Linked DNA regions of Homo sapiens: regions 1 and 2 are each linked to region 3. Evidence: fine-mapped expression QTL. A gene starts in region 3. Each other region holds a variant in brackets. All regions are shown on one strand. Distances are between the middles of the regions. Region 1 holds the start of COPS6 (COP9 signalosome subunit 6). Region 2 holds the start of LAMTOR4 (late endosomal/lysosomal adaptor, MAPK and MTOR activator 4). Region 3 holds the start of CNPY4 (canopy FGF signaling regulator 4).

Region 1 (6,446 bases), 33 kb before region 3:
GGATAGTCAAGGAAGTGACCGTGTCCTGGAGACGCGGCAACCGTGGTGACCGCAGTCAACACAGTAAGCCCCAGCATTCGCATTGTAATTGAGCTCATTCAAGCTGAGCGCTCTCCAGTAGGGACTTTCCCCTGTAGGGAGCATGCGCATTTTGATTTCACCTGTCCTCAAACTGACCCTTTGCTCATTATCTTGGTAAAAAACACGCCCCTGGGTGGAAATTTAAGATGCTAATGAAACATGCAATGTATGAACAAGCCTGTACACCCACTGCGCATGTGCACCTAGAGGACCACCCAGAACATACTTACTAGTAACACTTCTCCCACCCCCTTATGAATAATCGTGTAAGACCCCTTACAAAGGGGGTCTCTCTAGAGCCAGCCTTTGCTGTTTCATCCTTAGGAGCAGCCCTCCCTGAACTAACTCTCTCTCTATCTCTCTCTCTCCCAGGGTGTACTGTCTACTCTGCACTTAACTTTCAAAATACTATTTTCCTTTTGCAATAAATTACTCTATGCTGGATTTCCTTTGACATGTGTTTCTTTTATTCTTTTTCCTTTTTTTTTTTTTTTTTTTGTTGTTGTTGTTGTTGAGAGGGAGTCTCACTCTTGTCACCCAGGCTGATTCTCGTGCCTCAGCCTCCCAAGTAGCTGGGACTACAGGCGTGTGATACCATACCCGGCTAATTTGTGTGTATTTTTAGTAGAGACAAGGTTTCACCATGTTGGTCAGGCTTGTCTCGAACTCCTTACCTCAAATGATCTGCCGCCTCAATCTCCCAAAGTGCTGGGGTTACAGGTGTGAGCCACCGCGCCCGGCCTCCTGTGTGTTTCTTGTTTAAATTTTTTTTTTCTTTTGAGACGGGGGTCTTACTCTGTCACCCAGGCTGGAGTGCAGTGTTGTGATTTCGGCTCACTGCAACCTCCACCTCACAAGGTCAAGTGATCCTCCCACCTCAGCCTCCCAAGTAGCTGGAACCCCAGATGCATGCCACCACGCCCGGCTACTTTTTTGTAGAGACAGAGGGTTTTCACCATGTTGCCCAGACTGGTCTCAAACTCCTGAGCTCAAGGGATCCGCCCACCTCAGCCTCCCAAAGTGTTGGGATTACAGGTGTGAGCCACTGCACCCAGCCTTAAATCCTTTTAAACTAAGAAGATAAGAAATGAGGTATCACAATAGCCATCAATAGAAGGAAAGCACCTCATCATGTTCATGCTTTCCTCTGCCTTCTTCAACATATGAAGTCTTTTTTTTTTTTTTTTTTTTAGAGACAGGGTCTCACTCTGTCACCCAGGCTGGAGTGCAGTGGCGCGATCCTACCTCACTACAGCCTCAACCTCCTGGACTCAGGCGATCCTCCCTCCTCAGCTTCCAGAGTAGCTGGGACCACAGGCACGCACCATCACACCTGGCTTCCTTTCTGTTTTGTAGACTGGGTGCTGCCAGTTCATGAATCCCTAATAAAGCCAACTCAATCTTTAAAATTCAATTTGTTGGCCGGGTGCAGTGCTTCACGCCTGTAATCCCAGCACTTTGGGAGGCCGAGGCAGATAGATCACCTGAGGTCAGGAGTTTGAGACCAGCCTGGCCAACATGGTGAAACCCTGCCTCTACTAAAAATACAAAAACAAAAATTAGCCGGGAGTGGTGGCAGGCACCTGTAATCCCAGCTACTTGGGAGACTGAGGTGGCAGAATGGCTTGAACCTGGGAGGTGGAGGTTGCAGTGAGCCGAGATCGCACCACTGCACTCCAGCCTGGGAGCGACAGAGGGATACTCCATCTCTGTATATATATACGTATCCTGAAGTATGTTTATGGTCTGTTTCCTACAACTAGGGTATAAGCTCCATGAGGTCAGGACTTCGTTTTGTTTAGTGATGTACCTGCTGCCTGGTAGGCACTCCCAAATATTTGTTAAATTAATGACTGATAGGTGAATAGATAACCACTGACCCATACCAAAAAGGAGCACTTGCTTTTTGTTCGTTTTTGTTTTTGGGGTGGGGATATTTTTTTGGTTTGTTTGTTTGTTTGTTTTGAGACAAACAAATATGGCGAAACTCTATCTCTACAAAAAATACAAAATTTAGCCTGGCGTGGTGGCACGCATTTGCAGTCCCAGCTACTTGGGAGGCTGAGATGGGACAGTCACTTGAGTTCAGGAGGTTGAGGCTGCACTGAATTGTGATTGTAACACTGCACTCCAGCCTGGGTGACAGAGCAAGACTCTGTCTCAAAAACAACAATAACAAACACAAAACAAAACAAAAACAAAAAAAAAGAAACGTTTAGCAAACTTAGTTCTAAAATGCGCACAATCAACTGATTCAATGTCAAAGTCATCCTTAAATTCCACAATAATCTCTTGTTTTATGAGCTGTATAATTATCTGAACAATGTTTCAAAAGCACCTGAAACAACAAGGCAAAGGAGTTCTTTAATGTGTGAGAGAGCAGTGCAAACGATCAACTTTACTAACCCTAGAATAATTCTCATCTTGTTTTTATTTTAGCCTTCTATCTAGCTGAGAAGCACTATGCTCCTTGGAAGCTGCCTAGCATTCTTTAAAGAGAGACATTTTTCTGGCCAGGCACGGTGGCTCACACCTGTAATCCTAGCACTTTAGGAGGCCGAGGCAGGTGGATCGGTTGAGGCCAGGAGTCTGAGAACTGACTAGCCAACATGCTGAAAACCCATCTCTACTAAAAATACAAAAATGAGCCAGGTGTGGTGGCGCAAGCCTGATATCTCAGCTACTTGGGAGGCTGAGGCACAAGAATCACTTGAACCCAGGAGGTGGAGGTTGCAGTGAGCCAACATCTCACCAAAGAGATACATTTTTCTGACCTGGTTTTTCCAAATAGAAACAAGGCATTAGGTACTTTTCTTTGACAACCCTCTCAGTTTGTCCAGACCTGGTTGGTTTATCACTGGGGACTAGAATAAAATAAATTCCTTTTTAACTTCCCTTTGGCGAGAAGACCCCTCTTCCTGCAGGATTTCTCAAGTCCGTTCCATTGAGGGTTGCTGGCCCCTTCAAGTTTCCTTCATCCAGGCTCCTAAACGGAGAGATTGCATAATTCCCCTGTAAATTACAACTATCACCATATGGGGCTGTTCAGGGTCATAACACAGTTCTTCACCTGCTTTCTAGGAGCTTACACTTTGGGTGGGGATACAGACACCTAGAGCCAGAGTATGTCTGGCTCTTTCTAGGTGTCTGTACCCCTCTTTGTAGGGGTGGCAGGAGGAGCAGTGTGTGCAACTTGCTTAGGTTTAGGGGTAAGGAGGGGGTGGAGCAGCCTAGGCTAGCCAGATGTGAATTTTGGGTTTTTTTATGAGACAGAGTCTTGCTTTGTCAACCAGGCTGGAGTGTGGTGGTGTGATCTCGGCTCGCTGCAACCTCCG[C/T]CTCCCGGGTTCAAGTGATTCTCCTCCCTCAGCCTCTCGAGTAGCTGGGATTACAGGCATGCACCACCACGCCTGGCTAATTTTTGTATTTTTAGTAGAGATGGGGTTTCACCATCTCTACTGGTCGAGACCAGGCTGGTCTTGAACTCCTGACTTCAGGTGATTCACCCACCTCGGCCTCCCAAAGTGCTGAGATTACAAGCATAAGCCACTGTGCCTGGCCAGGAACTCAGTATTTAAGGGAAGAAAGCATGCAAGAGGAAAATAAGGAAGAAGGAGAGGCAGTGAGGCAAATGTTTTTTGTTTTGTTTTGTTTTGTTTTTCTTAAGACAGTGTCTCGCTCTGTCAGCAGGCTGGAGTGCAGTGGCGCAATCTCGGCTCACTGCAACCGCTGCCTCCCAGGTTCAAGCGATTCTTGTGCCTCAGCCTCCCAAGTAGCTGGTACTACAGGTGCGTGTCACCATGCCCAGCTAATATTTTGTATTTTTAGTAGAGACGGGGTTTCACAGTGTTAGCCAGGATAGTCTCAATCTCTTGACCTTGTGATCTGCCTGCCTCGGCCTCCCAAAGTGCTGGGATTACAGGCGTGAGCCACTGCACCCAGTCCAGCAAATGGTTATTTTATTTTATTTTTTGAAATAGAGTCTCAATCTGTTGCCCAGGCTGGAGTCCAGTGGGTCCATCTCGGCTCACTGCAATCTCCACCTCCTAGGCTCAAGTGATTCTCCTGCCTCAGCCTCCCAAGTAGCTGAGATTACAGGTGGGCACCACCACACCCAGCTAATTTTTGTATTTTTAGTAAAGATGGGGTTTTGCCATGTTGGCCAGGCTGGTCTTGAACTCCTGGCCTCAAGTGATCCACTCGCTTCCCAAAGTGCTGCGATTACAGGCATGAGCCACTGCACACCCTGCTGCACATTGTTACTTTTTTGTGAGTTTCTCATTAGTGTTCAGTAAATCTACATTTTATGTAAGATACAATAAACATTTGAAAAGAGGGAGTGGAGGAAAAAGTCAGTTATGCATCTGTCTCAGGATAGGTGGAGGGATGATTCCTGGTCTCTTCCTTGTTCTATAATTGGGAAGATAAGCTTGTAATCAACATTGTCAGTATGAGATTTCACAGAACTCGGATTAGGGCTGGTTTATAGGGGGAATGTTTATGCTGAAAGATTCAGAGGCTAATGAGGAATTTCCTGGCAAGCAATTTGTGAGGAAGACCATCTGGGGAGGTATATGCCTTTTGCCATTGTAGGAGCCTGGCTTATGTATGAGGCTATGACACAGGGTTGTGGAATTACAGCTATCTGGGAACAAAAAGGAAGGGAGTTTTGACTCACTTCCCAAGCATAAATTTCCTCGGCATGCCTCTACCATACCCAGCGAATTTTGTTTCCATGTTTTGTTGAAACAAGGTGTCACCATGTTGCCAAGGCTGGTCTCAAACTCCTGGGTTCAAGTGATCCTCCAACCTTGGCCTCCCAAAGTGCTAGGATTACAGGCGTGAGTCACCATGCCTGGCCTTGTGGAGTTATCTTCTTTCTTTCTTTCTTTCTTTCTTTTTTTTTTTTTTTTGAGATGGAGTCTCACTTTGTCTTGCCCGGGCTGGAGTGCAGTGGCGCGATCGCAGCTCACTGCAGCTTCCACCTCCCGGGTTCAAGCAATTCTCCTGCCTCAGGCTCCTGAGTAGCTGGGATTACAGGCGCCTGCCACCACGCCTGGCTAATTTTTGTATTTTTAGTAGAGATGGGGTTTCACCATGTTGGCTAGGCTCGTCTCAAACTGCTGACCTCAAGTGATTGTCTGGCCTCGGTCTCCCAAAATGCTGGTATTACAGGTGTGAGCCACCATGCCTGGCCTTGTGGGGTTATTTTCGAAAGTCCTTGAGATAATTCCTATCTCAGACATGCAAGCATGAGACCTTCTCCTTGGTGTTCTCATGGCTCCAATTTGTTTGGACCTGACAATGTGATTTTGTCCTGGTATCTGCAACTTTCACAAGATGGAGCAACTAACTCAACACCAGATTCCACCCCTAATTATTCCTTCATTCACTCAAAAAGTATCTAGGCTCCAATGTGTCAGGCACCGTGTTGGTCACAGGGGATACCATGATGAACAAGAGAAGGAACCACAGGCTTTTGAATGGGAAACTAAAGCATGTGAAAAACACACGGAGAGCTGGGTGCGGTGGCTCATGCCTGTAATCCCAGTGCTTTGGGAGGCTGAGGATGGAGGATCTCTTCTGCCCGGGAGTTGGAGACCAGCCTGGACAACCTAGTGAGACCCCCGTCTCTATCAAAATAAAAACAAATAATAAAATTAGCTGGGTGCGGTGGGGTGCGCCTGTAGTCCCAGCTACTCGGGAGGCTGAACTGGGAGGATCACTTGAGCCCAGGAGTTTGAGGGTGCAGTGAGCTGACATCAGGCCACTGCACTCCAGCCTGGGCGACAGAGCGAGACCCTGTCTCAAACAAAACAAAACAAACCACCACCACCACCAGACATGAGGGCCAGTGCAGCTGAAGCCTGAAGATCAAGGGCTAGAAGAGGCCAGGCCGGGGCCAGATCAGGCAGGGCCTTGCAGGTTGTGGTTAGTTGTTTGGATTTTATTGTGAGGGAAATAACACGACATGTCATTCCTTCTGCAACAGCCTTAAGAACTAGGCGTTCTTATCCCAATTTCACAGACGAGGACGATCAAGTCGTTAATTTGTCAAAGGTCACCCGCAGGCGACAGGCGGGGACAGGGTCTGGGAAAACCCGCTAGGCACCGAGGCCCAGAGGGCGTCGGGCGTCCCCGCACCGAGTGCCGCCCGCCGCGACCCGGGAACTGCCTGCTCCCCGGACGCCAGGCCCGCCGCACGCCGCGGGGACACCGAACATGCGCCGCTCGCCTTACGGAAGCCGGGAAGGAAGGGGGCGGGGCCGAGGCTGGCGGGCGCGGGGAAAATGGCGGCGGCGGCGGCGGCGGCTGCAGCTACGAACGGGACCGGAGGAAGCAGCGGGATGGAGGTGGATGCAGCAGGT
Region 2 (10,877 bases), 28 kb after region 3:
GAGCCACCGTGTCTGCCCCATAGCTCACTTCTAATCATGACAGTCACCATATGAAACTGAAGCTGCCAGTTACTGGGGCAGCACAATCACACACTCTGATTAGTCATTGCTTTTCCTCTCAAGAAACTGAAGCTAATTCTGGCTGATTACAGATAAAGGGAATTAATAAAAGGATCCTGGGCAGCCCACATAAGTATTAGGAGAATGGAGATGAAAACTTGAATGCTGATCTTCCAAGAACTATGTCCTAAAATCATGCTCAGACCCCCAGTGCTGCAGCCCTACTCATTGGGGTAGGAGAGACTCCTGCTGTCATTCACACTGCACCAAGGATGCATGCCTTTCTGTGCCAGGAGTCTAGCCTCGCAAACTACCACCACTATTGAGGGCCAGGTGCCTCTAATACCACCCTCACCAGCAAAATGGATCCCATGTGGACCTCATTTTCAAGTTGCTCACGTGTGCATTGAAGGAAGTGATATTATGAAAGCCAAGATGAGATAAGATTTCCCAATAAAGGAAGGTGTGGTTGGTCTATGCTGTTTACTAAGCGTGAAAAAAAAGAACAATCTGCAAATGAACTGTGGCTTTTGGCCTGACTACCCCCAATAAAGACAACTGAAAAAAGATTTAAAATAAAAATATTTATGGCTGGGCACAGTGGCTCACACCTGTAATCCCAGCACTTTGGGAGGCCAAGGCGGGTGGATCACCTGAGGTCAGGAGTTCGAGACCAGCCTGGCCAACATGGCAAAACTCCATGTGTACTAAAAATACAAAAATTCACCAGGCATGCTGGTGCACACCTGCAATCTCAGCTACTTGGGAGGCTGAGGTAGGAGAATCGTTTCAACCCAGGAGGTGGAGGTTGCAGTGAGCCGAGATTGTGCCACTGCACTCCAGCCTGGGTGACACAGAGAAACTCTGTCTCAAAAAATAAAATAAAATAAAAATATTTAAAATGCATCAAAGACCTTGTATGACACTGAAGAATTATCAGGAGAGAACAGGGAAAAGGACTGGAGCTCAAATAGATGGCTTAGGGGTGATTCTAAACCAGGGATATTTGTGAGTAAAGACAGCAGAGACATAAAGCTTGGCTTTTGCCATTCTCAAGAGTAGAGTGGGCCGGGTACAGTGGCTCATGCCTGTAATCCCAGCAGGTGGTAGGCCAAGGTGGGAAGATCACATGAGCCCAGGAGTTTTACACCAGCCTGGGCAAAATAGTAAGACCCCATCTCTTTAAAAAAAAAAAAAAAAAAAAACAGCCAGGTGTGGTGGCATGCACCTGTAGTCCCAGCTACTTGGGGGGCTGAGGCAGGAGGATCGCTTGAACCTGGGAGGTCAAGGCTGCATTGAGCTGAGATTGCGACACTGCACTCCAGCCTGGGTAACAAGGTGAGACCCCGTGTCCAAAAAACAAGAGAGATAGAGTGAACATGGGTGAAAGTCCTTCAGCAACTGGGAAGGTAAACTTTAGAGAAGCATCTTCTGCTGTTTGTTGAGACTCTAATCCATGGGCATTCACTGAAAGGCAGAGATGTATTTTTGGTGGCTTTCATGCATTAGCACAATGGGAGTTGGAGCTTAACGTTCACCAAATGGAAGATGCTATGTAACAGTCCCTGTACTGGGTTGAAAACTGAAGAATTTTACTCTGTTTGTTGGGGTAGACTGTACTCCCAGGAATTTTTCTGTGTGGCCACAGAACTTCAAACCATGTGTCTGAACTGTTAAATACCTTAGATATCTAATAGTGGAAACTGTTCAGAGTAAGATAATAGTGCCTTAGGTCTTAACGGTATACATAAAAGTATTTTTTCAAATAAAATGTCCAGAAAACAATCAAATATCACAAAGCAGGTAATAAAGCAGGGCAGCCAGAACAATAGAAACAACAGACTACAGAAACATGGACACACACAGACACACAAGGACTCCAGATGTTGGAATTATCAGACACAGATTGTAACACTTACTATGTTGAAGGAAATGAAAGTCCAATTTTAAGATCTCAGTGGCCGGGCAGTGCAGCTCACACCTGAAATTCCAGCACTGTGCAAGGCTGAGGCACAGATCACTTGAGACCAGGAGTTCAAGAGCAGCCTGGGCAACATAGCGAGACCTCATCTCTGTAACAAACAATAACAAACAAAAATTTAAAAATAAGTTTGTGGATTTAGGCATGTTTGTTATGTTTCAATTCACTGCAGTTATTGTCCTGATTGATTTCAAAATATTCTTTTTTTTTTTTTGTCCAGTGGAAGCCTCTTCAAGTTGGCCTTTGAGTTCTTTTGACACAACCCTAGTCACCAATAAAGTTATCTTTTTATTTATTTATTTATTTGTCTATTCTTTGAGAAGGAGTCACATTCTGTTGTCCAGGCTGGAGTGCAGTGGTGTGATCTCCATTCACTGCAACCTCCACCTCCCGGATTCAAGCGATTCTCCTGCCTCAGCCACCTGAGTAGCTGGGATTACAGGCACATGCCACCACGCCTGGCTAATTTTTATATTTTTAGTAGAGACGGGGTTTCAAAGTGTTGGCCAGGCTGGTCTTTAACACCTGACCTCGTGATCCGCCTGCCTCGGCCTCCCAAAGTGCTGAGATTACAGGCGTAAACCACTGCGCCCAGCCTAAAGTTATCTTTAACTTCATTCTGTGGTTTTATTATTACTTTTTCCTTTTTTTTTTTTTTGAGACTGAGTCTCGCTCTATCATCCGGGCTGGAGTGCAGTAGTGCGATCTTGGCTCACTGCAACCTCTGTCTCCCAGGTTCAAGGCCTGAGCCTCCCGAGTAGCTGGGATTACAGGTGCCTGCCAATATGTGCAGCCAATTTTTGAATTTTTAGTAGAGACAGGATTTGGCCGCTATCGGGGGAAATTCACCCCCAATATTTCACATAGCTTCTTTTCTATATTCCCTAAGAGTCGGCCGGTCTGAGAAATAAAGGGACAGAGTACAAAAAAGAGAAATTTTAAAGCTGGGTGTCCAGGGAAGACATCACATGTCGGCAGGTTCCGTGATGACTAATAAAAACCAGCAAGTTTTTATTAGTGATTTTTTCAAAAGGGGAGGGAGTGTACGAATAGGGTGTGGGTCACAGAGATCACATGCTTCACAAGGTAATAAGATATCACAAGGTAAATGGAGGCAGGGCGAGATCACAGGACCACAAGACGGGACAAATTAAAATTGCTAATGAAGTTTCGGGCACGCATTGTCATTGATAACATCTTATCAGGAGACAGGTTTGAGCAGACAACTGGTCTGACCAAAATTTATTAGGCGGGAATTTCTTCGTCCTAATAAGCCTGGGAGCGCTACGGGAGACTGGGGCTTATTTCATCCCTACAGCTTCGACCATGAAAGACGGCCGCCCCACAAAGCGGCCATTTCAGAGGCCTACCCTCAGGGACACACTCTCTTTCTCAGGGATGCTCCTTGCTGAGAAAAAGAATTCAGCAATATTTCTCCCATTTGCTTTTGAAAGAAGAGAAATATGGCACTGTTCCACCCGGCTCACCGGCAGTCAGAGTTTAAGGTTATCTCTCTTGTTCCCTGAACATTGCTGTTATCCTGTTCTTTTTTCAAGGTGCCCAGATTTCATATTGTTCAAACACACATCCTCTACAAACAATTTGTGTTAACACAATCATCACAGGGTCCTGAGGTGACATACATCCTCCTCAGCTTACCAAAATGACGGGATTAAGAGATTAAAGACAGGCATAGGAAATCACAAGGGTATTGATTGGGGAAGTGATAAGCGTCCATGAAATCTTCACAATTTACATTCAGAGATTGCAGTAAAGACAGGCGTAAGAAATTATAAAAGTATTAATTTGGGGAACTAATAAATGTCCATGAAATCTTCACAATCCACGTTCTTCTGCCATGGCTTCAGCCAATCCCTCCGTTTGGGGTCCCTGACTTCCCACAACAGGCCACGTTGGCCAGGCTGGTCTCAAACTCCTGAGCTAAAAAATTAGCCGGGCGTGGTGGCAGACGCCTGTAGTCCCAACTACTCGGGAGGCTGAGGCAGGAGAATGATGTGAACCCGGGAGGAGGAGTTTGCAGTGAGCTGAGATCACGCCACTGCACTCTAGCCAGCCTGGGCGGGAAAAAAAAAAAAAAAAAAAGAGAGAGACAAACTCAATAGAAAAATGAGAAAAGAGTTGAACTGGGCCGGCATGGTGGCTCATGCCTGTAATCCCAGCACTTTGGGAGGCCGAGGTGGGTAGATCACTTAAGGTCAGGAGTTTGAGACCAGCCTGGCCAACATGGTCAACATGGTGAAACCCCCTTTCTACTAAAAACCCAAAAAAATTAGTCGTGCCTGGTGGTGCGTGCCTGTAATCCCAGCTACTCGGGAGGCTGAGGCAGGAGGATTGCTTGAACCTGGGAGGTGGAGGTTGCAGTGGGCCGAGATCGCACCACCGCTCTCTAGCCTGGGCAACAGAGGAAGACTATCTCAAAAAAAAAATAAATAAATAAGCCAGTTGCAGTGGCTCATGCCTGTAATCGTAGCACTTTGGGAGGCCGAGGCAGGTGGATTGCTCTGAGCTCAGGAGTTCAAGACCAGCCTGGGCAACACGGTGAAACCCCGTCTCTACTAAAAATACAAAAAAAAAAGCCGGGATGGCAACGTGCCCCTGTAGTCCCAGCTACTTGGGAGGCTGAGGCAAGGGAATTGCTTGAATCCAGGAGGCGGAGGTTGCAGTGAGCCAAGAGCGCACCATTGCACTCCAGCCTGGGCAACATAGCAAGACTCTGTCTCAAAAAAAAAAAAAAGTTGAACTGATACTTCACAAAAGATGATATCCCAAAAGCCAAACCTGTCTGAAAATGTGATCAACCTCATTAATATTTAGGTAAATGCAAATAAAAACTACAATGAGAAGCCATCGCATATCCAAAAACTTTACCCTAAAAGTGTGGCAATACTGGCTGGGCATGGTGGCTCAGGCCTGTAATCCCAACACTTTGGGAGGCTGATGCAGGCAGATCACGAGGTCAAGAGATCAAGACTATCCTGGCCAACATGGTGAAACCCATCTCTACTAAAAATACAAAAATTAGCTGGGTGTGGTGGTGCGCTCCTGTAGTCCCAGCTACTCGGGAGGCTGAGGCAGAAGAATTGCTTGAACCCGGGAACCAGGAGGTGGAGGTTGCAGTGAGCTGAGATTGCGCCACTGCACTCCAGCCTGGGCAACAGAACAAGACTGTCTCAAAAAAAAAACAAAAAACAAAAAGTGTGGCAATACCATGTGTTAATGGAGCTGGAGATAACTGGGAACTCTGACACATTGCTAGAGGAGTGTGAGTTGGTCCAACCAGTTTGATTTGCAGACCATAGATAAAAAAGATAGGAAACTCTCTGATTCATTTTATCTGGCAACCTGCTCTTTCTACCAAAAGCAGATAAAGAATATACCAAAAAGAAACTACAGCCCAATCTCATTTATCATAATAGATTTTAAAAATTCTAAATAAAGCAGTAAAACAAATGGGTAGTATAATTTGTTCCAGCAGATTTTATTCCAGAAACACAAAGATGGTTAAATATCAAGAATACTGCCACCATAATTTATTACATCAAAATCTTTTTTTTTTCTTTTGAGACGGAGTTTCATTCT[T/C]GTTGCCCAGGTTGGAGTGCAATGGCACAATCTCAGCTCATTGCAACCTTCGCCTCCTGGATTCAAGGATTCTCCTGCCTCAGCCTCCCCAGTAGCTGGGATTACAGGCATGCACCACCACACCCACCTAGTTTTTTTTTTTTTTGTTTGTTTGTTTTGTATTTTTAGTAGTGATGAGGTTTCACCATGTTGGCCAGGCAGGTCTCGAACTCCTGACTTCAGGTGATCCACCCGCCTTGGTCTCCCAAAGTGCTGGGATTACAGGTGTGAGCTACCACGCCCAGCCTTGAAATTGCTGTTTCTAACAAGTCTTAAAAGACACCCAGACTTTAACAATTGTTATTATATTCAGATTTTTTTGTTGCTTTTTGAGACAATCTTGCTCTTTTACCCAGTCTTGAGTGCAGTAGCATGATCATGGCTCACTGCAGCCTCAACCTCCTGGGCTCAAGCGATTCTCCCACCTCAGCCTCCCGGGTAGCTGGGACTACATGTGCAGTATCATGCCTGGTTAATTTTTAAATTTTTAGAGATGGGGTCTTGCTATGTTGCCCAGGCTTCTAGAATCATTCTTCATATTATTTCACTAACACAGCCTCCACCACATTAATATGGCAACAGGTTTAGAAATTATTTAAAACAAAAATTTCTAATGTTTACATATATTGTGTGATGTGTGTGTGTGTGTGTGTGTGTGTGTGTGTGTGTATCATTCCAAGGTACTGTTTCTAATTTTTTCCTGTAGGGAATGAATATTCAGTATTGCAGCTGCATTGGCTAGCTGGGGATTCTATTTACCACCACATTGTCCCGGACTGAATCTGGGGACAAAAAAACCACTTCGGGAACAAATTCTTGTCTTCAACAAAGAGCTGTCTTGAGTAGGCACAAAAGTAGCATTTGAGGGCCGGACGCGGTGGCTCAAGCCTGTAATCCCAGCACTTTGGGAGGCCGAGGCGGGCGGATCACGAGGTCAGGAGTTTGAGACCAGCCTGGCCAATATGGTGAAACCCTATCTCTACTAAAAACACAAAAATAGCCGGGCGTGGTGGTGGGCGCCTGTAATCCCAGCTACTCGCGAGGCTGAGGCAGGAGAATTGCTTGAACACGGGAGGCGGAAGTTGTATTGAGCCAGAGATCGCGCCATTGCACTGCAACCTGGGCGACCGAGTGAGACTCCGACTCAAAAAAAAAAAAAAGTAGCATTTGAGTACCTTTTTTTTCCTTTTCTTTTCTTTTTTTTTTAGAGGAAGGGCACCCAGGCTGGAGTGCAGTGGCACCATAATAGCTCACTGCACTCTGCAACTGCTGAGCTCAAGAGATTCTCCTCCATCAGCCTCCCTAGTAGCTGGAATTACTGGCGTGAGGCACCATGCCCGGCTTATTTTCTTATTTTTTTGTAGAGGTGGTTGGAGCGGGGGGACTGGGGAGGGTCTCGCTATGTTGCTCAGGCTCGTCTCGAACTCTTGCCCTGAAATGATCCGTCCTCGGCCTCGCAAAGCGCTGAGATTACAGGCGTGAGCCACGGCGCCCAGCCTTGAATAGTTTTTCACATGCATTGCACGTTATTTCCTTTTATTCTCTAGTTTTTGGGTCCAGTCTTAAACCTGGGAAGGGATTCATTTGGGGGGGTCACACCAGCGGGCATCCTGGCTCAGGCGGAACTCTGGCTCCAGACAGTGCGCCCAGGACCAAACGGTCAACCCCGGCCTACTCCCGCCCCTCCCAGATCCTCCCCTCCTCGGACGCTCCCGCGTCTTCCTCTCGCTCAGGCACTGAGGGGCGGGGAGATGGGTGTTAAAGAGGGGATATCACCAATCAACGTGCGCCTCCGGGAAACAGCGCTTCGCACTGGCTGGTTGGGTCTGACGACGTGGCCACTGTCCAATCCTCATGCTAGAGGCGGGGCTAAAGGCCAGTGGCGCAAGCAGAAGGAGGAGCGCAGCGGCTGCAAGCACGTGACCGGGGCCTGAAGCCGGAAGCTACCTATCTGGTAGGGAGCTCCCCCAGCACCGAAGACTGCGATGGTGAGTGAGGACGCATGCGCGAGAGGACCCGCCGGGGGTTCAGCGTCTCTGCTCCCCAGTCTGTGTGGTTTCCCCCTGGTGGGCCTGCGCTCCACCCTCACCTCCTATCCGCTCGGGGAGGAAGAGGGGATGGAAATGGGAGGGATGGCGACGAGAATGCTGGGGAGGGGTCTGTGGGAGGGTGTTCTGGGGCTGCGGGTAGTCTGCAGGTCGGGCGGAGACGAAGGGAGGTGAAGAGAGGGTCTGGGGGCAGGGGCCAGTGGGGCAGCAAAGGCCCCTTGGGGTAGCAAAGGTGGGATGTGGAAGGCCAGGGGAGCCCGGGGGCGAGAGTGGGGGCAGATGGAGGCTCGGGAAGATCAGTATTGAGGACCATGTAGGGGGGAGGGGGCCGGGAAGGGACCTGGCTGGGGAATGAGAAAACCTGGGGCCATCGTCAACCCAGAGACTTGGGTTTGCAGGTGAAGGGTATCGGGCCGTCCATCCCTCTAGCATGCTTCTCACGACTTGCATCTTTACCCACTAGACTTCTGCGCTGACCCAGGGGCTGGAGCGAATCCCAGACCAGCTCGGCTACCTGGTACTGAGTGAAGGTGCAGTGCTGGCGGTGCGTTCTGGGAAAGGGAGGGGGTCCCTTAGTGCACACAGCCCGGTAACCCCTTCTAATATTGGCCCTTCTTTTCTCGGCTTTTATCTGGTTTCCTGCCTGGCATCTATTAGGTTGGTACAAAAGTATTTGCAGTTTTTGCAATTACTTTCAGTAATCAGTCTGTGGAATCTTAGTCTCCTAACGGCTGCGATTTATTTATTTATAGTTTTTGAGACTGAGTTTCGTTCTTGTTGCCCAAGCTGGAGTGCAGTGGTGCGACCTCGGCTCACTGCAACCTCCGCCTCCGGGGTTCAAGCGATTCTCCTGCCTCAGCCTCCCGAGTAGCTGGGATTATAGGCACGTGCCACCATGCTCTGCTAATTTTTTGTATTTTTAGTAGAAACGGGGTTTCACCGTGTTAGCCAGGCTGGTCTCAAACTCCTGACCTCAGGTGATCCACCTGCCTCAGCCTCCCAAAGTGCTGGGATTACAGGCGTGAGCCAACATGCCTGGCCTTTATTTGGTATTTCTTAAAAAGGCATTTGTATTTTGTTCCATAGTACTGTATGGTGTTAGGTCTCTAGATTACAGGCGTGAGCCACCACGTCTGGCCTTTATTTGGTATTTCTTAAAGAGGCATTTGTATTTTGTTCCATAGTACTGTATAGTGTTAAGTCTCCAGATGTTTTTGACTTAGGTAGAGACAAAGCTTAAGGTTAAGGGTTGAAAACAATACAGGTGGTAAAGACTATTGAGGGAATCCAGGATATTAAAAATTCAACATGTTATGACAAGGTAACTAACTTTCCGGGAGGTAGGAATTCAGCCCACCTTAAAGGAGAGTATTTACAGTGGGGGAGGACTTATTTGCAGGTGTGTGGCACTAACCTATCTGAACTGATGGTAAGTTTATGCTGAAAAGATTTGGGAAGGTTTGAGGGAAGAGAGGAGGATATGGTCAGGGAGGATGTAATTGTGAAGGATCTTCAAGGCCAGGTTAACACACTTGAACTTATTCTTGAAGGTAATACAGTTTGAAAGGTTTTTTAAAACAGAAACAAGACCCAGTGAGGTGGTTGAGCAATATTGTTGTTAGTGATGTGAAGATGGGCAGAAGGAGGCGTCATTAAGAGATGAGACTGGGCTGGGCGTGGTGGTTCATGCCTGTAATTCTAGCACTTTGGGAGGCCAAGGCGGGCGGATCACGAGGTCAGGAGATCGAGACCATCCTGGCCAACACGGTGAAACCCCGTCTGTACTAAAAATACAAAAACAAAATTAGCCAGGCCTGGTGGCGGGCACTTGTAGTCCCAGCTACTCGGGAAGCTGAGGCAGTAGAATGGCGTGAACCTGGAAGGTGGAGGTTGCAGTTAGCCGAGATCACACCACTGTACTCCAGCCTGGGCGACAGAGCAAGACTCCGTCTCAAAAAAAACAAAAAAAAAAAGAGATGAGACTGGGCAAGTGGTGGTAAGAAGGAGGAGCAAGGAGAGAAGAGTTTTGTTTTTGTTTTTTTTTGTTTTTGTTTTTTGAGACAGAGTCTCGCTCTGTGGCCCAGGCTGGAGTGCAGTGGCATGATCTCAGCTCACTGCAACCTCCGTCTTCCGGGTTCAAGTGATTTTCCTGCCTCAGCCTCCTGATTAGCTAGGATTACAGGTGTGCACCACCATGCCCAGCTAATTTTTGTATTTTTAGTAGAGAGAGGGTTTCACCATGTTGGCCGGGCTGGTCTCGAACTCCTGACCTCATGATTTGCCCGCCTCAGCCTCCCACCCAAAGTGCTGGGATTACAGGCATAAGCCACTGCACCCGGCCTGTTTTTTTGTTTTTGTTTTTGTTTTTTTTGAGACGGAGTCTCACTCTGTCACCCAGGCTGGAGTGCAGTGGTGCAGTCTCCCCTCACTGCAAGCTCCGCCTCCCGGGTTCACGCCATTCTCCTGCCTCAGCCTCCCTAGTAGCTGGGACTACAGGCGCCCGCCACCATGCCCGGCTACTTTTTTGTATTTTTAGTAGAGATGGGGTTTCACCATGTTAGCCAGGATGGTCTGGATCTCCTGACCTCGTGATCCGCCTACCTCGGCCTCCCAAAGTGCTGGGATTACAGGTGTGAGCCACAGCACCCCGTCCTGTTTTTTTGTTTGTTTGTTTTTTTTTAAGATAGAGTCTCGCCGTCACTCAGGCTGGAGTGCAGTGGTAACGATCACATCTCATTGTAGCCTTGAACTCCTGGGCCCAAGCAATCCTCCCGCCTCAGCATCCCAAGTAACTAGAACTACAGGCAAGCACCACCACGCCCAGCCATTAAAAAAAAAAAAAAAATGTGTGGAGACAGGGGCCTTGCTATGTTGCCCAGGCTGGTCTCAAACTCCTGGCCTCCAGCATTCCTCCTGCCTTGGCCTCCCAGAGTGCTGAGATTACAGGCATGAGCTCCTGTGCTTGGCTGGAAGAAGTTATTTTAAAGGAGGAATCAGTATATCTTGCTAATGACTAGAAATAGGTAATAGAGGAAATATTTCTGTAGCCAGAACTCTAAAGCCTGGAAGAGTGATGATGCCTTAAGAAACATGTCCCTGCGTGGTGGCTCACGCCTTTAATCCCAGCACTTTGGGAGGCTGAGGTGGGT
Region 3 (7,507 bases):
CTGGACTGGGCCTAGTGGCTCATGCCTGTAATTCCAACACTCTGGGAGCCCAAGGTAGGAGGATCGCTTGAGCCCAGCAGTTCACGACCAGCCTGGACAACACAGTGAGACCCCATCTGTACAAAAAATACAAAAATTAGCTGGGTATGCAGGCACAGGGCTGTTGTTCTAGCTACTCAGGAGGCAGAGGTGGGAAAACTGATAGAGCCCAGGAGCTCCTAGGCTCAAGCAATCCTCACACCTCAGCCTCCCAAGTAGCTGGGACTATAGGTGTGTACCACTACACACAGCCAATTTTTTGCAGGGGCAGGGGCAGAGACAGAGTCTCACTATGTTGTCCAGGCTGGTCTTGAACTGCTGGGCTCACGCAGTCCTCCTGCTTCGGCCTCCCAAAGTGTTGGAATTACAGGCCTGAGCCACCAGGCCCAGCCCAGATTTTTATCTTTTTCTGTTACACCTCAGGGCTTCAATCCCACCACTTTGAAGTTTTGGGCTCAAGCAATCCTCCAGCGTTGGCCTCTCAAAGTGTTGGAATTAAAGGCGTGAGCCGAAGTGTCTGGCCCAGGCTCAGCTTTCCTTATCTTCATAGCAATGCCATCCATCCAGACACTTGTTCTTTATCTGAGCCTTCACATCAAATCCACCAGGTAGGCCAGGTGCGGTGGCTCACGTCTGTAATTCCAGCAATTTGGGAGGCCAAGGTGGGTGGATCACTTCAGGTCAGGAGTTCGAGACCAGCCTGAGCAACATGGTAAAACCCTTTCTCTACTAAAAATACAAAAATTAGCTGGGCATGGTGGCGCGTGCCTGTAATCCCAGCTACTTGGGAGGCTGAGGCAGGAGAATCACTTGAGCCTCGGCAGTAGAGTTTGCAGTGAGTTGAGATTGCGCCATTGCACTCCAGCCTCAGTGACAGATGGACTCTGTCTCAAAAAAAAAAAAAAGGTAAAAAAATAAATCCGGTCGGGCGCGTTGGCTCACACCTGTAATCCCAGCACTTTGGGAGGCCGAGGCGGACGGATCACCAGGTCAAGAGATGGAGACCATCCTGGCCAACATGGTGAAATCCCATCTCTACTAAAAATACAAAAACTAGCTTGGCGTGGTGGCACGCACCTGTAGTCCCAGCTACTCGGGAGGCTGAGGCAAGAGAATCACTTGAACCTGGGAAGTGGAGGTTGCAGTGAGCCAAGATCGTGCCACTGGACTCCAGCCTGGCGACAGAGCGAGACTCTGTCTCAAAAATCAATCAATCCACCAGGTAGTCCAACCTGACTCCTCTGCTCCCACTGCTTGGCCCAGGTCACCATCATCTATCCACTGGGTAACTCCAAAAACCTCCTAACAATGTCAACCGGAGTCTACCCTTGCCTTTCTCTACATCTATTCCTAACGTTGCAGCCAAAATGCTTCTGTCAAACTGTAAAGCAGATTGTCATTTCTTTGCTCAAACCCTCATAATGGCTCTCCACTTGCCATAAAGTAAAACCTGAAATCCTTATAATGGGCAGGTGCAGTGGCTCAGCTCATGCCTGTAATCTGTGCACTTTGGGAGGGTGAGGTGGGAAGACTGCTTGGGCTTAGGAATTCCTGACCACCCTGGGCAACATAGCAAAACCCCATCTCAGGCCAGGCACAGTGGCTCACGCCTGTAATCCTAGCACTTTGGGAGACGAAGGTGGGCGGATCACTTGAGGGCAGGAGTTCAAGACCAGCCTGGCCAACATGGTGAAACCCTATCTCTACTAAAAATAAAAAAATTAGATGGGCATGGTGGCGGGCACCTGTAATCACAGCTACTCGGGAGGCTGAGGCAGAAGAATCACTCGAACCCGGGAGGCGGAGGTTGCAGTGAGCAAAGATCTGTGTCATTGCACTCCAGCCTGGGCAACAAAGCAAGACTTCTTCTCAAAAACAACAACAACAACAACAAAAAAAACAGACGAAATCCTTATAATGTCCTACAAAGCCCTTCAAAATTACCTTCTCCCCATTATATCTCTGAACGCCCTTCCTTCTTCCACTTTGATCCAGACACATACATTCCTTCTGGCTGCTCCTTAAACTTGCCAGGTATGTACTTGCTTAATAGCCTTTGCTGCATTCCCTCTGCCTGGAATGTTCTTCCCAAATATCTAATTGGCTGCCTACCCTGACCACCCTATTTAACTCTGCACTCTGCCCTCAGAGTGGGGGCAGCCCACTTTTTCTTTTCCATAGCATTTAACATCTTTTGGGCATGGCGCAGTGGCTCACGCCTGTAATCCCAACACTTTGGGAGGCCGAGGTGGGCAGATCACGAGGTCAAGAGATCGAGACCATCCTGGCCAACATGGTTAAACCCCATCTCTACTAAAAATACAAAAATTAGCTGGGCGTGGTGATGTGCACCTGTAGTCCCAGATACTCGGGAGGCTGAGGCAGGAGAATTGCTTGAACCCAGGAGGTGGAGGTTGCAGTGAGTAGAGGTTGTGCCACTGCACTCCAGCCTGGCAACAGAGTGAGACCCCGTCTCCGTCCACCATCTAGACAGGGCTCTTTTTTTTTTTTTTTTTTTTTGAGCTAGAGTTTCACTCTTGTTGTCCAGGCTGGAGAGCAATGGCGCGATCTTGGCTCACTGCAACCTCCGCCTCCCAGATTCAAGCAATTCTCCTGTCTCAGCCTCCTGCGTAGCTGGGATTACAGGCATGCGCCACCACACCTGGCTAATTTTTGTATTTTTAGTAGAGATGGGGTTTCACCATGTTGCTCAGGCTGGTCTTGAACTCCTGACCTCAGGTGTTCCACCCACCCTGGCCTCCCAAAGTGCTGGGATTACAGGCGTGAGCCACTGTGCCCGGCCGACAGAGCTCTTTATTATGTTCACTGATGTATTCCAGGAGCCCAGCCTGGGACATCATAAATATTTGTGAAGTAAATGAATTAGTTGTAAGGCTTAGAGATATTGGTGCTCAGTAAATACTTGGTATCACTATTATTAATAGGTCATAGGCCCAAGCTTTGAGCCTACACTGTAGTTAAAAGCAAACTGGGCCGGCCGTGGTGGCTCACGCCTGTAATCCCAGCACTTTGGGAGGCCGAGGCGGGCGGATCACTAGGTCAGGAGATTGAGACCATCCTGGCTAACAAGGTGAAACCTCGTCTCTACTAAAAAATAGAAAAAATTAGCCAGGCATGGTGGCAGGCACCTATAGTCCCTGCTACTCGGGAGGCTGCTGAGGCAGGAGAATGGCGTGAGCCCGGGAGGCGGAGCTTGCAGTGAGCCGAGATCGCACCACTGCACTCCAGCCTGGGCAACAGAGCCAGACTCTGTCTCAAAAAAAAAAAAAAAACAAAAAAAGCAAAGTGGAGCCAGGTGCAGTGGCTCACGCCTGTAATTTGGGAGGCCAAGGCGGGAAGATCACCTGAGGTTAGGAGTTCGAGACCACCCTGGCCAACATGGTGAAACCCTGTCTTTTTGTAAAAACACAAAAATTAACCAGACATGGTGGCGGGCGCCTGTAGTCCCAGCTATCTGGGAGGCTGAGGTGGGAGAACCGCTTGAACCAGGAAGCGGAGGTTGCAGTGAACCGAGATCGTGCCACTGCACTCCAGCCTGGGCGATAGAGAGAGACTCCATCTCAAAAAAAAAAAAAAAGCAAATTGGAGCCAAGAGAGGTAACTCACCCCAGTAATCCCAGCACTTTGGAAGGCAGAGGTGGGGGGATTGTTTGAGGCCAGGAGTTTGAGACAGCCTGGTCAACATAGTGAGACCCCCATTTCTGCAAAAATTAAAAAATTAGACGGACCTGGTGGTGTGAACCTGTCATCCCAGCTACTTAGGAGGCTGAGGCAGGAGGATCGCTTGAACTGAGGAGTTGGAGGCTGCAGTGAGCCAAGATGGTGCCACTGCACAACAGCCTGGGTAACAGACGGAAACCCTGTCTCAAAAAAAAAACAAAAAAAAATTAAAGTGGCACACTTGCAGTTGGACATTAGGAAGATTAACATATCAATACTGCTTAGGAGTAGTACAGGTAGGGTGGGGCCGTGCTGGAAGGATGGGAAGAGGGAGGCCGAAAAACAAATTGGTTCTTTTCAAACCATCCCTGATCTCCTCCCCGACTTTTATAAGTCTTATCTATAGGGAACACAACTATTCGAGACATACTCTGTGCCTGGCGCCGGGTTTACAAGAGGGGGTCGTGTCCCACTTCCCTGGCGAACTCCTACGAATCCTTCAATACCCGGCGGTACCCTCTGCCAGTAAAGGCTCATAAAACACGCTACAGTCACAGGATCTCCTCAGATCAGTGGAGGCGGCAGGAAGGCGTCCCAGGGAAGGGTTAACTTAAGCGAGATCCCAGCAGAGAAGCAGGTCGAAGATCCCCGGGCAGCGCGAAAGGAGGTTCAGAGAGCCCACCCCATCTCCTGCAACATCTCTCCAATGCAGGCACACACACGGGGTCCCCACGAGCACAGACACACAACCAACCGTCCTCTTTCCAGTCCCCACAAGGGACCTTCAAAGGGTCTCCTCCGGGGTACCACTCAGACCCGCCCCCGCCACCCGAGCGCGGGGAGCAGGAAAACTCTAGCGGCAGCCGAGACGCTGCTCACCCGGCGCTCGGCGCCATCTTGGCCCCGCCCCCTCGTGGGAGCAGGTCCTGGCAGAGCCTAAGAGCAAGTCACTGCCCCTTCCCCGTACCAGAATAAGTCCTCTAGGCTCGCAGAATGAAATTATATTTTAAAAGTTTGTTTCTACATCTATATATAAGGAGCACTCCCTCTTGGTGTAATTACTGCAATTTATTCCTTCACTACCCGGCTGCCAGGACCTTCAAGAGGCGCCACAAAACGGAGGCAGGGAAACCCGTAGCAACGAGGCCCCACCCTTGTTGGGCTGATCCTGCGCATGCGCCGACCTTCCTCGGCTGGATTTAAGGTTGCCGCTAGCCGCCTGGGAATTTAAGGGACCCACACTACCTTCCCGAAGTTGAAGGCAAGCGGTGATTGTTTGTAGACGGCGCTTTGTCATGGGACCTGTGCGGTTGGGAATATTGCTTTTCCTTTTTTTGGCCGTGCACGAGGCTTGGGCTGGGATGTTGAAGGAGGAGGACGATGACACAGAACGCTTGCCCAGCAAATGCGAAGGTATTTGAAGGGGGTAGCCCCTATAGGCATCGCCCGGCCACACCTCCTTCTTCTAGGCCGGACATCCTAGCCTGTATTGGGTGGGTCACCCGACCTCCTTGAAGGCTTGAGGGAGGTTCTGGTGGAGCTTGGCTGAATTTGGATGGGGTCAAGGAAGCGAACGTGTAGTGCCACCTCAAACTGCATCCAGAGAGAGCCTGCATTTTTTTGGCTGGCTTGGAACCCCCCGCCCGCCAATGGATTGTGGGAATTGTAGTTCAGGGACCATCGGCCCGGGACTGCCAACTTTTAGAGCATCTTCAGTGAGTGTTTACCTCATGTCACCAGACCTTAATCTGCAGAGGCTGCAGGAGCCGGGTGTGAGGCTCAGGCCTTGTGGACATCCGCTGCCCTACCCTAGCATAGACGCTCCCAAATTACAGGCCCCACACCCCGCTGAGGGGGTTTGAGGGTGAGTAATTCAGCCTTTGAAGCTCATAAACAAAAGGAAGCCACACAACTAGGAGAGTGTCCCCATCCGGTGAGACTTTGCAGACGGTGCGTACTATATGGATTTTTCAGCAAGCAGCGCCTTCCATAGCTGCACTAGCGTGGGGCCCAGTTGAGAAAGGGGGCTGGCCCTGATGCCCTAGTTTGCTGCCCTCCTGACTTTACGTTTCTTCCCTGGATTCCTTTTCTCTTCGCTTCACCCCCTCAACTGTATTCCAGTATCATGAAAGGCAGTCATGACAGTCTCATGACTTGGTCCTCATCTCTGTCTCCTTTCACCTCCGTGTGCCGCTCTTCTCCCCTGACCTGTCAATCTTTTTAAACAGACTTAATCACCTAATTGTATCAGTCCTTGCTTTAACACCTCTGCAGGCCTTCTATCAGAATACAGCCAACGGGCCTGGGCACAGTGGCTCACATCTGTAATCCCAGCACTTTGGAAGGCCAAGGTGGGAGGATCACTTGAGCCCATGAGTTCAGGCCCAGCTTCACCACAGCTTGTCATCCTTGGTTTATCTGTCCCAACTACACTGACAGAGACCTGTAGATAGAGATAATAGGTCTTATTGCTGTCTATATTGTTAGTATGCATACAGAAGGAGCTCAATAAATAACTGCAGGATAACAGTGAATACTTATACAGTGCTCACTATGTGCCAGCCTTTATATATGTTGATTTATTTAATCTTCATCACACTCCTATGAGGGACATACTATTATTATCCAATTGTATTAATTTTATATATATATATATATATATATATATTTTTTTTTTTTTTTTTTTTTTTTTTTTTTTTTTCTCTTTTCAGACAGCGTCTCATGCCGTTGCCCAGGCTGGAGTGCAGTGGTGCAATCTCGCTCACTGCAACCTCCGCCTCCCGGGTTCAAGCGATTCTCCTGCCTCAGCCTCCCAAGTAGCTGGGATTACAGGCGCCCGCCACCATGCCCAGCTAATTTTTGTATTTTTAGTAGAGACAAGGTTTCACTATGTTGGCCAGGATGGTCTCAATCTCTTGACCTCGTGATCCACCCACCTCAGCCTCCCAAAGTGTTGGGATTACAGGCATGAGTCACTGTGCTGGCCTATTTATTTTTAATGTATTTTACTTTTTTTAAGATGGAGTCTCCCTTTGTTGCCTGGGCTGGGGTGCAGTGGTGGGATCTCAGCTCACTGCAACCTCCACCTCCTGGGTTCGAGTGATTCTCCTGCCTCAGCTTCCCGAGTAGCTATTACAGGTGCGCACCACCACACCTGGCTAGTTTTTGTATTTTTAATAGAGATGGGGTTTCACCATGTGGGCCAGGCTGGTCTTGAACTCCTCAAGTGATCTGCCCGCCTCAGCCTCCCAAAGTGCTGGGATTACAGGTGTGAGCCACCACTCCTGGCCTATTATCCCATTATAAAGATGAAGAAACCGGCCGGGCGTGGTGGCTCACGCCTGTAATCCCAGTACTTTGGGAGGCCAAGGCGGGCGGATCACAAGGTCAGCTGATCGAGACCATCCTGGCTAACACGGTGAAACCCTGTCTCTACTAAAAATACAAAAAATTAGCCGGGCGTGGTGGTGGGTGCCTGTAGTCCCAGCTACTCGGGAGACTGAGGCAGGAGAATGGCGTGAACCCAGGAGGCGGAGCTGGCAGTGAGCCGAGACTGCGCCACTGCACTACAGCCTGGGCGACAGAGCGAGAGTCCGTCTGAAAAAAAAAAAAAAAAAGATGAAGAAACCGAGGCACAGCAAGCAGGAAGATTGCCACACAGCTGCTAAATGGCTGAGCCAGGATTCCAACCCAGCCAGTCTGGCTCCATAGTCTGCACTTGTATGCTCTGCTGCCTCAGGTCATCTGCAGAATGAATGGCTGGTGTGTTTGTCTTTTACCTCCCCCC

What was found.
Region 1: its variant is fine-mapped to the expression of CNPY4 in unexposed skin (GTEx, PIP above 0.99). The same link has a PIP of 0.9 or more in atrial appendage, esophagus muscle, left ventricle, thyroid, visceral fat and whole blood.
Region 2: its variant is fine-mapped to the expression of CNPY4 in whole blood (INTERVAL, PIP above 0.99).

What each region holds. Positions count from the first base shown.
Region 1 is chr7:100,082,623-100,089,068 of GRCh38, forward strand. COPS6 (COP9 signalosome subunit 6) reads left to right here and starts at 6,347. Exons shown (of 10, transcript NM_006833.5): 1 at 6,347-6,444. The coding sequence starts at 6,369. RefSeq lists enhancers at 1-327, 4,467-5,160 and a silencer at 6,207-6,396. The variant C/T (reference allele first, on the strand shown) is at 3,417.
Region 2 is chr7:100,141,308-100,152,184 of GRCh38, forward strand. It overlaps LAMTOR4 (late endosomal/lysosomal adaptor, MAPK and MTOR activator 4), which reads left to right and starts at 7,611. Exons shown (of 4, transcript NM_001008395.4): 1 at 7,611-7,668; 2 at 8,192-8,272. The coding sequence starts at 7,666. RefSeq lists enhancers at 6,614-7,226, 7,251-7,310, 7,581-7,690, 7,839-8,451 and silencers at 7,991-8,080, 8,091-8,180. The variant T/C (reference allele first, on the strand shown) is at 5,642.
Region 3 is chr7:100,114,730-100,122,236 of GRCh38, forward strand. It overlaps CNPY4 (canopy FGF signaling regulator 4), which reads left to right and starts at 4,905. Exons shown (of 6, transcript NM_152755.2): 1 at 4,905-5,133. The coding sequence starts at 5,016. It overlaps TAF6 (TATA-box binding protein associated factor 6), which reads right to left and starts at 4,629. Exons shown (of 15, transcript NM_139315.3): 1 at 4,475-4,629. RefSeq lists enhancers at 4,582-4,731, 4,942-5,161, 5,532-5,601.